Regions from separate parts of the Homo sapiens genome. Here all the other regions are reported to be linked to region 3. The links are microRNA targets in miRTarBase. Many come from high-throughput screens and were not tested one by one. Region 3 holds a microRNA gene; each other region holds the end of a gene's coding sequence.

The links. The annotated mature microRNA hsa-miR-3617-3p reads CAUCAGCACCCUAUGUCCUUUCU and lies in region 3 at 1,403-1,425, opposite strand. An mRNA with a match to its seed (bases 2 to 7 or 8) in the 3' UTR can be bound and repressed. Matches are read on the target gene's strand: a 7mer-m8 pairs with bases 2 to 8, a 7mer-A1 pairs with bases 2 to 7 and ends in A, and an 8mer does both.
Region 1: the mRNA of CYRIB is a reported target of hsa-miR-3617-3p. Seed matches in the 3' UTR shown: 7mer-m8 at 2,551-2,557.
Region 2: the mRNA of VASP is a reported target of hsa-miR-3617-3p. Seed matches in the 3' UTR shown: 7mer-m8 at 579-585.

The regions. Positions count from the first base shown.
Region 1 is chr8:129,838,260-129,842,452 of GRCh38, forward strand. CYRIB (CYFIP related Rac1 interactor B) reads right to left here. Exons shown (of 14, transcript NM_001353258.2): 14 at 1,334-3,946. The coding sequence ends at 3,883. Among named protein-coding and RNA genes, the nearest start is that of GSDMC, 54 kb to the left of the region's middle.
Region 2 is chr19:45,525,780-45,529,972 of GRCh38, forward strand. VASP (vasodilator stimulated phosphoprotein) reads left to right here. Exons shown (of 13, transcript NM_003370.4): 12 at 167-224; 13 at 361-1,204. The coding sequence ends at 398. It also overlaps a transcript of OPA3 not described here. Among named protein-coding and RNA genes, the nearest start is that of VASP, 20 kb to the left of the region's middle.
Region 3 is chr20:45,703,707-45,707,899 of GRCh38, forward strand. It overlaps MIR3617 (microRNA 3617), which reads right to left and starts at 1,474; the gene lies at 1,396-1,474. WFDC10B (WAP four-disulfide core domain 10B) reads right to left here and starts at 1,313. Exons shown (of 4, transcript NM_172006.2): 1 at 1,212-1,313; 2 at 791-855. It overlaps WFDC13 (WAP four-disulfide core domain 13), which reads left to right. Exons shown (of 4, transcript NM_172005.2): 2 at 738-888; 3 at 2,157-2,221; 4 at 4,152-4,193. The coding sequence ends at 2,199.

The sequences.
Region 1 (4,193 bases), not on the chromosome of region 3:
CTACTGCCTTTGCAGACAGTATATGAGACATGGAATCAGTGTTAGAGATCATCTGTTTCAATTTTCTCATTGTACTGATGAGGAAAATAGAGTTTCAAAGAAGAGATATGGCTTGGGTCTCCTGACCCTTGACCCACAGATCTTCGCATTGTACCTTCTATGATTGAATCTTACTCTGAAGTTTAAAATATGCTTCGAACAGTAAGAACTTCAAAACTGCAGTTAACTGCAATCTCAAATGGAACCAGAAGGACATTTCAACTCAAAAGACCTAGATTTGAGTACAAATGTCATTAATCCTTATGACAAGTCTAAAATACTTGCAGCAATCTTAAAATGGTCCAGAATGCTTCTTAGCCCAAATCTTTAAAGTGAGAAGCCAGCCAGTTGAAAAGTTCCACTTATCTATGTTGAGGGCTGTGGAAATGGGGCAGTGGTGAGTTAATTATGGGCATGTTTGGTGGAAGAGATGAGGCAATGGATTTCTCTAAATTGTGAAGAAAGGCTGGGGCATAGGCACACTAACCAGGTGCGTTTTAGAGACTAGACTGGGGTTCAAAGGATTTACCTACACCAGAGCAGACTCATACCTCCCTCCAGTGGGCAGTAATTAATCCCAGCTGATATGGTTTGGTTGCGTCCCCACCCAAATCTCATCTTGAATTCCCACGTGTTGTGGGAGGGACCCAGTTGGAAGTAACTGAATAATGAGGGCAGGTCTTTCCCGTGCTGTTCTCATGACAGTAAGTGTCATGAGATCTGATGGTTATTTTAAGGGGGACTTTTCCTGCAAAAGCTCTCCTCTCATCTGCCACCAAGTGAGATGTGCCTTTCACCTTCTCCCATGATTGTGAGGCCTCCCCAGCCACATGGAACTGTAAGTCAATTAAACCTCTCTTTCATAAATTGCCCAGTATTGGGGTATTTATTAGTAGTGTGCAAATGGACTAATACACTGGCTAAGTCCATGCCTACCCCCCATAATACTTCACTCCAAGGACAGACATGAGAACTACAGATAGAGTTGGCAGAGAAGATGCCTGCTTGCTCTCTTTGGCTATCTGACTGGCAAGTACTAGCTCTGAGGTTGAATCATCTTTTGGCAGCAGAGCTGTCTCCTTTGATCACACTGCAGCCCTCAGCTTCAATCACACTAGGTTCTCAGATAAACCTACTCTTGGATCTAGTGGAAGGAGAGGAAAATTCTTTCTGGAAAGGGCCAGATAGTAAATATATTTTAGCTTTTGAGGGCCATATGGTCTTTGTCACAACTCAATTCTGCTGCTGTCATGCAAAAGTCTCGATAAATAATGTGTCAACAAATGAGTGAGGCTTAGGTTCCAATAAAATTTTATTTATGAACACTAAAATTTGAATTTCATATGCTTTTCTCATGCCACAAAATATTATTCTTTTGATTGTATTCAACCTTTTTAAAAACCATTTTTAGCTCACAAGCTGTACAAAAACAGACGGTGAGTAAATTGGCCCACAGACCGGTTTGCTAGCCCCTGGGCTTAAGAGATCTGTCCACTTACTCCTCAACATGCAGAGTGTGAACTGTGTGAACTGCATAGGCCACAGCAATCTTACTGCATCCATTCCCGCTGCATCATTATTTTTGATTTGTATTCATTCAGTCCACCGAAGCATTCACTTGGCACCTCTCCAAATCTGGGTACTGTGCAAGATCCTTCCTTGGGACACTGAAGGAAAATCAGACACGGCCCTTCTCTCAAGTTCGCAGACTCTCCGGTATCCAGATACTACGGCTCTCATAGTATCAGAAAACACAGCCACAAGCGCAGGTAAGTATCAGAGGTGTTTTACGAGATACATGTATCAGATTCTTAAGGCTGCTGTACCAAAATACCACAAACTGCATGGCTTAAAACAACAGAAATTTATTCCCTCACAATCCTGGAGGCCAGATGTCTGAAATCAAGATATTGGTAGGGTTGGTTCCTTCTCGAGACTCTGAGGGAGAATCTGTGACATGCCTGTTTTCCTAGCTTCTAGTGACTTCCTCCAATTCTTAGGGTTCTTTGGCTCATAGATGCATTGCTCTAATCTCTGCCTCCATCTTCCCATGGCCTTCAGCTCTGTGTGTCTATTTCCCCTTCTTTTCTAAGAGCTAGTCATTGAATTTAGGGCCCACCCTACTACAGGTTGATCTCATTTCCAGGTCCTTGATTTCATCTGCAAAAACTTTTTCCAAATAATGTCACACGTGGAGATTCCCAGTGAATGTATCTCCTGGGGGCCACTATTCAGCCTATTACACTATTCTTAGAAGATGCCTAGAAGGATATGGCCAATGTTATCCAGAAGGCTTCATGAAGGAGGTAATAGAAGCTAACCCTTCAAAGATGAAAGTTGGCGTTCATTAGAGGGTCACAAGGGGAGGAAGGGAATGTCAGGTTCAGGGACCAGCCAGACCAGAGCTAAGGAAGTGACATCACATGGAACAATTTGTGAACAGCAAGCAGTAGGGCCTGGCTGCAGGACAGGGTGTGAAGTGGGGGAGCAGTGATCAGGAGGGCCAGAGAGATCAGCAGGGATGTGATCTTGAGAAGCTGTGTGTGCCATGATCTGGCCCTATTAATCCAGAAGGGTCTGATGGAAGCCTCTGTGATTCTCTTCCATGGTTAAACATTTTAATTGTATTATACCTCGGATATTCCTAAATATTTAAAACACTGGCATGGTTGAACTAGACAACCTTTAAGTAGTTTGTTCCAACCATGAGATTTAGATTTCATGATTTAGGTTTTATGATCTTAAACTGAAACCTGTTAGTTTTCTACCACTAGTGAGATCATGGCCTCTGCTTTTCTCCTGGGAAGTCCCTCTTATAATCACTCTCTTCCCATGATTAAAGGGCTACTCTGCCTTCATGTTGCTACCCGCTCCCCTGGAAATGGAGAATCAAGCAAGGATGCGGTTTTCCTTCCATTACTACATCCATACAAGAGTAAATCAAGAATAAAAGTCCAGTTAATGAAAAGATCACTGGTCTTAATATACTTAGCAAAATTTTAAAGGCAATTAAAAGTATATACATAGACAATGATCAAAATTCTAATGAAAAGACCCGGCTCTCCCCTAAAAGAAGAAAAAATCATGTAATGTATATATGCATTCCATAAAAACATACATGGGGAAAACTTCAGAAGCCTAAAAACAAAACATCAGTAAACCAAGCCACACTTAGAAAAATGAAAGCTGATTTTTATTTTATCATCAACAGCCATTCTTTAGACATGAACATGCATACGTAATATTCTACGCACACATCACAGCTTTTAACGTTAGTTAATAAAGGTTAAACACACAACATACATCCTTACAAAAAAAGTCAAAATGCAAACTTAAAACTTTAAACAAAAGTATTACTAATTTAAAAAAAGTTTGTGTTGGGTACCATTTGTACAACACAGTTAATTTAAACATTTTCATTTTGGTTGCACATGAAAAAGGCGGCAGTAGAAAATAAAGTCATTGAGGGTTTTTAAATAGCAGAATAGGCAGTTTTGCCATGCAGGAGAAGCAATATTAAATATTAGTTTCAAAAAAAATCCACATTTAAAAATATTTAGTTCAAGTCACAGAATTTTTCTCAGTAGAGACCCCAATGCAATGCATAATTAGCTGCCTTAGATGGCCCGTTTGAAAGGATGATATCCCTTCAGAGTGTAACTTTACTGATTTTGGCACAGAAAAGAAGTCTTAAGAACATGATTAAAAAAGAGGGAAGAGGAACAGAGGAAAGAAATAAAAGCAAGAATAAATGAGATAGTAATTGCAATCACTAAAAAACTGCATTCTCAGTCATTGCAGAATACTGTCTTCTGTCTACAGCAGGTGCTTATTCCAGAATTGTTATTGCAGCATGGATTTAATTTGCTTGGAGGTAGTCTCATCATTCAAATGTTTTGTTGTGTACCTAAAAAAAGAAAAGAAAAAAGATCAATTTTAGGAACTTAAAAAATAATCAGCATCGGGTTCTCTAATTATGACAGGATGGAGAATTGGTCTCAGCAAAACTCACAAAATTATGGCTTCTCATTGTAGCTTTAACCCTGTTCAGGTTCTGCACAGCCTGTCATCCTCACCCCCTTTCTAACTGAATAGCCAGTAGCTATTTAGCAGCTATTTAACTTAGTTACAACTACACTGCTGAAATGATTGGT
Region 2 (4,193 bases), not on the chromosome of region 3:
GATTACCTGAGCCTGGGAAGTTGAGGCTGCAATGAGCTGTGATCATGCCATTGCACCCTAGCCTGGGCAACAGAGCAAGGTTCCTTCTCAAAAAATAAAAGAAGGGGGATTCATTCCTGCAAGTCCCGGTACCCCCTCCTGATTAGTTTTACCCCATTAATTTTAGGAGCTTCTGGAAGAGGTGAAGAAGGAATTGCAGAAAGTGAAAGAGGAAATCATTGAAGGTGAGGTGGTTTGCTTTGGTTTTGTTCTTAAACATTTACTTATTTTGGAGGCATCATGTCCCTGGGCAAGAGCCCTGTTTTGGAAGGGAGGAGGCAGAGACTCTGCCCCTGACCTCTGCTCCTTGTTTCCTTCCAGCCTTCGTCCAGGAGCTGAGGAAGCGGGGTTCTCCCTGACCACAGGGACCCAGAAGACCCGCTTCTCCTTTCCGCACACCCGGCCTGTCACCCTGCTTTCCCTGCCTCTACTTGACTTGGAATTGGCTGAAGACTACACAGGAATGCATCGTTCCCACTCCCCATCCCACTTGGAAAACTCCAAGGGGGTGTGGCTTCCCTGCTCACACCCACACTGGCTGCTGATTGGCTGGGGAGGCCCCCGCCCTTTTCTCCCTTTGGTCCTTCCCCTCTGCCATCCCCTTGGGGCCGGTCCCTCTGCTGGGGATGCACCAATGAACCCCACAGGAAGGGGGAAGGAAGGAGGGAATTTCACATTCCCTTGTTCTAGATTCACTTTAACGCTTAATGCCTTCAAAGTTTTGGTTTTTTTAAGAAAAAAAAATATATATATATTTGGGTTTTGGGGGAAAAGGGAAATTTTTTTTTCTCTTTGGTTTTGATAAAATGGGATGTGGGAGTTTTTAAATGCTATAGCCCTGGGCTTGCCCCATTTGGGGCAGCTATTTAAGGGGAGGGGATGTCTCACCGGGCTGGGGGTGAGATATCCCCCCACCCCAGGGACTCCCCTTCCCTCTGGCTCCTTCCCCTTTTCTATGAGGAAATAAGATGCTGTAACTTTTTGGAACCTCAGTTTTTTGATTTTTTATTTGGGTAGGTTTTGGGGTCCAGGCCATTTTTTTTACCCCTTGGAGGAAATAAGATGAGGGAGAAAGGAGAAGGGGAGGAAACTTCTCCCCTCCCACCTTCACCTTTAGCTTCTTGAAAATGGGCCCCTGCAGAATAAATCTGCCAGTTTTTATAAATGCTAAGATCTCTGGAGTGATTTGAAGGCCTGTTCTGATGGGGATGGAGGTGTGCTCGGCCCCCGGTGCCCCTCCAGGAAGATTTGGTCCTCTGCTGAGAACCCCTGCCTCCTCCCAGGAATCCACCTTCCCTTCATCTTCCTTCCCACCCTGCATATTGCGCCTGCTCACTCATCCTCAGGCCCGCAGCCAGGATGATCTCTGCCCCCTCCAGCCTCCCTCCCCATGCCCCTTAGGAGGCCACTTCCTCCCCATCCCACCCTGCCCTTCACCACCCTAGGGGAGGCCAGAAGCAGCCTCACTTTGTGTAGCCTTGGGCAAGTCCATTTGCTTACCTCAGGCCTCAGTTTCTGATTTGGGAAAGGGCTCATAAGATGATTCTCTGCCCCCACTCTACCACTCTCCCAGCTTCTTTCCTCTTTTTTTTTTTTTTTTTTTTTAATGAGTTGGAGTCTTGCTCTTTCACCCAGTCTGGAGTGTAGTGGCAGGATCACAGCTCACTGCAGCCTTGAACTCCTGGGCTCAAGGGATCCTCCTGCCTCAGCCTCCCAAGTAGCTGGAACTACAGGCGTTTGGTATGACGCCTAGCTAATATTTTCATTTTTCGTAGAGATGCGGTCTTGCTGTGTTGCCTAGGTTGGTCTCTAACTCCTGGCCTCCAGCAGTCCTCCTGCTTTGGCCTCTTAAAGTGCTGGAATTACAGGCGTGAGCCACTGTGTCCGGCCTTCTTTCCTAATTTCAATGACATTTTGCAGACGCACATTATGGTTCTCAGACACGTTCTTAAGATCTTTACCCCAGAGCTCCTTTAATTAGAAAACGCTGACAGTCGATTTATAAAGTAGCATTCAGAGTCACAGAGCTCATCCACGCCCCCTTCAGTTGTCGGGTGGGTAGGTCATATGGCCTGGTGGAATACCCCGCTTGGACAGGGGGACCTCTGGGCTGAGGGACAGGTAGTCCCCCTGGAGGAGGCCTTTGCGTGAAGGAGGGCGGAGGAGGACCTGGACCAGTCCAAAGGCAGGAAGGAAGGGCGATCCCTGCGTACCGTGAGGGGCAGATTTGGAGGGAAGTTGGGCGAACTGACGATGACTTAGGTAGTAAAGGGACAGGCCGGTCCCTAGCAAAGGCAACTGAAGAGGACAGCGAGGGAGGACCGGATAAAAGGACAGTAGCAGTAGGTCCAGGACTGGGGACTGGTGACCAAGTGACTGAGCCTGAAAGCCAGAATGGACTAGCCCTGGTCAAGACCGGTTTTTCCTCCCAAAAGGCCACGTCCTGCTGGAACAGACCACAGAATGCCGGGCTGGGAGGCGTTTCCCTGGAAGACCCAGCATAGCCATGCCAGTGGGGTGCGCCATAGGTGGAAGAAGAGGGGGGTTATGTTGGATCGATCCACTCAGGGAGGGGAGGATGTCAATGACAGGTACTAAGATGGATTAAGGTCAGGAGCCGCAGGGTGGTGACTCATTGGAGCTAACGCAGTCCAGGATTCACCCCCACCTTTCCCCCTAAGACTGAGGTAGATGGAAGGGGGCGGGTCGGGAAGTCCGTAGGAACTTTGTGCATCTTTACAATGGTCTGTACCAATGAGGAGGAGGTAGGTGGTGTTCGGTGCAAAGGATGAGCGTCCTAGGGGAAGGGTCCACTCAGGTGAGTGAGGGTGCGGGTGACAGAATGAGAGGTGGCTAAATCCGGGTGCAGAATTTTGTTTTGCCAAAAGAGGTGGACGTCCTGCTGGCCTACCTAGCGGTAGGGAGGTGGGGTCTGATAAAAGACGCTGTCTTTCCAAAGTGCTCAACAAATGCGCTGGCAGGGGCGGGGTGGGATAGGGCGGGGTCCTTCTTGGAACGTTCCACCTGCAGGAGGCGGAGAGTCCCAGTGGAAGGTACCACTGGGCAGGTTAGTAGGGAGGTTCGATCAGCTCCAGCCCAGGATCTCTCCGGCGCCCCCGAAGGACTGGGTGGTGTCAGCTGGGCCGGTCCAGGATGGGACAGTGCGGAGAATAGGCCAAGACAGAGACTTCGCAGTCCAGACAGCAGTCACCTCCAAGACCAGGGCCCCGAGACCTCCTATTTCTCGGACGCCGGCGCAACTGGGGGTGCAGGCGGCGGGTCTCGGAGGCAGAGGTGGGCTCGCACCTCCTGCAGCTGAGCGCGCAGCTCCTCCAGGGCGAGCTGCGTCGACGTCGCCTGCACCTGCGCCTGCAACTCCTCGAGCGCCAGCCCCAAGTGGCCCACCTCGCCCCGCAGCGCCTCCCTGGCAACACGTCGCTCCTTTTCCTTGCGGCGCTGCTGCAACTGGTGGCGCCAATACTCCAGCATCAGGCAGCTGCAGGCGGTGATGAAGATGATGCCCTCGCCCAGCAGCTCCGCGCCCAGCTCGGCGGCTGCACCCTCGTTCAGCGGCTTGATGGCAGCGGCATTGAAACCCATGATGCGCATTTTGGTCCGCATCTCCAGCCAGTGGTACACTGCAGGAAAAGACAGGAGTCAGGGGTCTTTTGCAGGGCAGCCTCCTATAAGCCCCGACCCTCTGTGCTTCGATGTCCCCGTTGTAGCAATGGGGATGTGGTCACCACAATCGGACGCGTGCTGGCGGGGACGCCTTAACGAAGACAAGTGCAGGCCTCACACCCAGAATCCTCTAGGGAAAACTTCCTTAACTAATGACTTACTCATGTGAAGGTGGAGTGTCAGCTTTTGCATCGTTATAAACACAGAAGATGCTGATGCTCTTTTTTTTTCTTTAATTTTTCTTTTTTTGAGCCAGGGTTTCGCTCTATCGTCCAGGCTGGAGTGCAGTGCCGAAATCACAGCTTACTGCAGCCTCGAACTCCTGGGCTCAAGCGATCCTCCTCCCGCCTCAGCCTCCAGAGTAGCTGGGACAACGTGTGCGCGCCATCATGCCTGGCTAATTTTTTAATTTTTTGTAGAAATGGGGGCTCCTTGCGTTGCCCAGGCTGGTCTCGAACTCCTGGGCTCAAGCG
Region 3 (4,193 bases):
TACTTGGGGGTAGGGGAGGAAATAGGAAGTCAACATAATGATGCTTATTCTTCTCTAACAGTAGAAAGTGGGGCATCCTGGTGCTCTGGCCTCCTGATCGAGAGACACCAAGGAAGAAAAAAGCTGAATCTTTGAACGCCATTCTGAAATCCCCACCCTTCTTACCATGAAAGAAGTCACTCCCAGAACTTACTTGTGAATTGGGTCCCAGCTCTCTGATCCAGTACCTTCAGTTTAATGCATGGTCTTCATCCTTTACCAAAACTTACCTTTCACTCATTCTTCCTGTACACAAATAACCCATGTTAGGTTAACCCCAGGGTAAACTATGTTGTTAATGAGAAGCTCTACAACTTGCTCAAGACCACACAATGAATCAGTGCAGAACGAACATACAAACCTCTTTCTTGTTCACCACATACACCATTGATACCCTTGATATGGACACAACCATAGTCAATGGGGGCTTGGCATCTGAACTACAAGGATGGTGAATGACCAATGGGTGCAGGGTTCTACCAAACTCTGTTCTTGATCAAAAAATATCCATGCCCTGCTTCCCTGCTCAGAACTCAGAGGAAGGCAGCAGCTGAGGACAAAACCTGATGCCACCACCCTGGAACCATGCAAGGCAGATGAGGGTGGCAGGTTTCCTGGCAGTTCCCTGGGCTTTCTGAGTTCTGAACATTACTCCAGCCTGTTGGTGAGGCCCTTCTCTTACTTGTTCTGTGTTCCAGAGTATATCTTGGAACCTCCACCCTGCATATCAGCACCTGAAAACTGTACTCACCTGTGTACAATGCAGGAAGATTGCGAGAAAGGATTTCAGTGCTGTTCCTCCTTCTGTGGGATAGTCTGTTCATCAGAAACATTTCAAAAGCGCAACAGGTAAGAGATATCTCATATCCAGGTCTGATCCTAGAGCTGCTGGTGGGAGCCCAGCAGAAGAGTCCCTTACCAGCAACTGTGCTGGATCTCTCCTTTTTTTTTTTTTTCCTTGGTGGCCATGTTGCCAACATGCCCCTTCTCTTGACCAAGGATAATTTCCATAAAAGTCCTGATTAGAAAAGCCCTCCTCCCCTCCCAATCACCACATCCCATCACCATATCCGTGAATTTCTGACTCTGCCTCTCTGAACACACCCACAAATGCCTTTATCCACAGACCTTCCCCCGACCCAGAATCCACCCTTATCCCAGGGACACTGTACCTGCAGGTGTAACCAAAATCCCAAAGCAAAATTTGTCCTACACTTTTGCTTGCCCTCCTTTCACAAGACACCATCCTTTGGCCACCAGTGTTCTTGGGCTCTGGAGATCCAGCCCAAAGGAAGTTTTGATTAATTGTCCAGACATTAACACTAGCCGCAAGCCTGCTAAATGGAGTGTGCTCCCAGGGCAGAGAAAGGACATAGGGTGCTGATGAGACATATGGTTTCTAATCCCATCTTGCAACTATGTCTTTCTATGACCTTGAGTAAGACAATTCCCTCTTTTTTACTTTCTTTTTCTCATGAGTAAAATAAGTACTCTTGTTTTTTCCTGCTTTGCAAGGCCCATATGAAATTTCAAAAGACTCACAGTGGAAGACTCAACCAATGAGCCCTTTGAGGGAAGCCTGGCAGTCTTGTTCCCTGCTGTATTCCCTACCATGAGCAGAATACCCAGCATGAGATAATGTGCAGAGTGATTAAGCATGGGCTCAAAGCCAAACACCTGGGCTCAAATCCTGGCTTCTTAGCTAAGTGACCTTAAGTGATCTTAGACAAGCTAATTAACCTCTCTCTGGGCATCAACTTCCTCATCCTTAAGACTGGAACAATAATAGTGAGGTTAAAATAGACAATCCATGTAAGCTTTAAAACATTACTTGCCAACATAATTGCTGTGAATTTTGGGGATTAGGCAACCACTTCTCTTTGAAGAGACTAGCCCTTGCAATTAAATTCCACATCTTTCAATGCTCTACATTGGAATGCAGAAGCATAAATATAACTCTTTGGTGTCATTGAGTTTTTTGAGGTTCTGCCTTCCCTATGGCAAGAGAAATGAGCTTCATGGTCTAATATTAATGGTGGAAGTAATTGAAAGAAAAATATATATCTCTAAAAGTAAAACTTCACTAGTTAATATTTGAAAATATTTTTCTTCTACAGAATCAAACACAAGGGCTCAGAAGTCATCATGCCTGCCAACTGAGGCATATTTCCTAGATCATTTTGTAAGTACAGGGATTTGGTCTCGCCTTCCTCATGTGAGATTCCCAGGGATGCTCACTTTCTTCCTGTAGCCTCACCAGGGGCACTACATTCCCACAAGCTCAGAATGGCCTCTCATTACCTGATTGCCTCCTCCTCCATCATTCCCCTCCAAGGGCTATCTTTGCACTCCCTGGGGGAGGCACGGTGCAGTCCAGCATGAATTCTGCAACACAGAGCAATGTAAGGAACCAAGTCATGGCCCAGGGGGAACCCAGGGCACTCAGATCTGAGGCTTTGTCAAGGAACAAGCTCTTCTAGCCTCCGGGTTGACAGCACCCTGGGCAGGGACTCAAGCTGAGCCCTTCACGCTCTGAGACTTTGGTCTGCTCACTGTACCTCTCTGAGACAGTCACCTCCCTCATGTGAAATATGAAGAAAACATCCATGCCTTGGGGTATTGGGAGGACAACACAAGGCCATGTAGATGGAAGAACTTGGTCTCTGCAAAGGTAGAAACTGCCAGCAACTCACTTACAAGGTCACTCATTCAGGTTCCAGTTTTTTCTCTGAAAAAAGAGGGAGTGGGCCGGGTATGGTGACTCACACCTGTAACCCCAGCACTTTCGGAGGCCAAGGTGGACGGATCACGAGGTCAGGAGTTCAAGACCAGCCTGACCAACAGAGTGAAACCCTGTCTCTACTAAAAATACAAAAATTAGTTGGGTGTGATGGTGCACACCTGGAATCCCAGCTACTCAGGAGGCTGAAGCAGGAGAATTGCTTGAACCCAGGAGGCAGAGGTTGCAGTGAGCCAAGAGTGCACCATTGCACTCCAGCCTGGGCGACAGAGTGAGACTCCGTCTCAAAAAAAAAAAAAGAGGGAGTGGGAATCATCTTTATTATTTTACTGATGCTTCAAGAATGGTGAACAAAATGGAGTCCTGTGGAATTCCACCACCAAAAAAATGATAGTATTCATAAGTTGGTGGATTTCGTTTCAGAGTATTTGAAAGAAAAAGTTAGAAGTTTAGGGTCTTCTAATGGGCCTTCTGATGTCTCCAGATGTTCCAAATTAGAATGGTGGTCTTTCAGCTTAGTCCTTTTATTAACCCTGTACAAAGGAGCGTGATAAATAGTAGCAGGTGGAGGCCAGTGGAGCAGTTTAGACGCATGAGCACTTGCCCAGGCTCCGGTGAGCCCACCATGCTGCGGATGAGCTCCCACTCATGCTTCAAGGTTTCTATTAAATTAAACACTCCATAGAAACTTCACCAGTTCACTCCAGACAGAATTAGTCCCTCTCTTTGTCTTTTGTAGTGTCCTATCTTTGGCCTACCATAACCTAGTGACCCCTGATCCAGGGCAGGAAATACTGTTCAGAAAAATCTATAGACTCTTTTACTACCAGAAACTGACCATATGTGGTTCGAGTTGACCTGAGTGAGGCAGGTCTCTTACATACAGGTTGGCTATCACTGTTTTAATAATCTGAGTTTGATCTATCCAATACTGTAGGCACTGGTCACGAGAGGCTATTTAAATGTTAATTCATATGAATTACAATAAAATAAAATATTCAATCAGTTCCTTAGCCTTATTTTCCATTTCAAGTGTTTAATAACCACATGTGGTTAGTAGCTACCATATTACACATTATAAATACAGAACACAGAAAGTTCTAATGGAAAGCATTGCTTTAAGCTACATAAAGCTGATGTCTAAAAAATGATGGCTAATTAAAGGTGATCATGACAGAGGACACCCTCTATGACAGCCTCATGTTAGACTCCAGGAAAAGTTTTTGGGGGCTATTTCTTTAAGGAGTTCCTAAGCATAGCCTGACAACAGACAGTTCAATGACAGTAATTCTCTAGAGACCCAACATGATGTCCAAGGATGTTTAAAGAATCAAGAAGAATAAATGGACTAATTATCTTTCCTTCCCCACAGGCCTCTACGATGTTTTTTCTTGGTCCACCTTTAGGAAGGTAT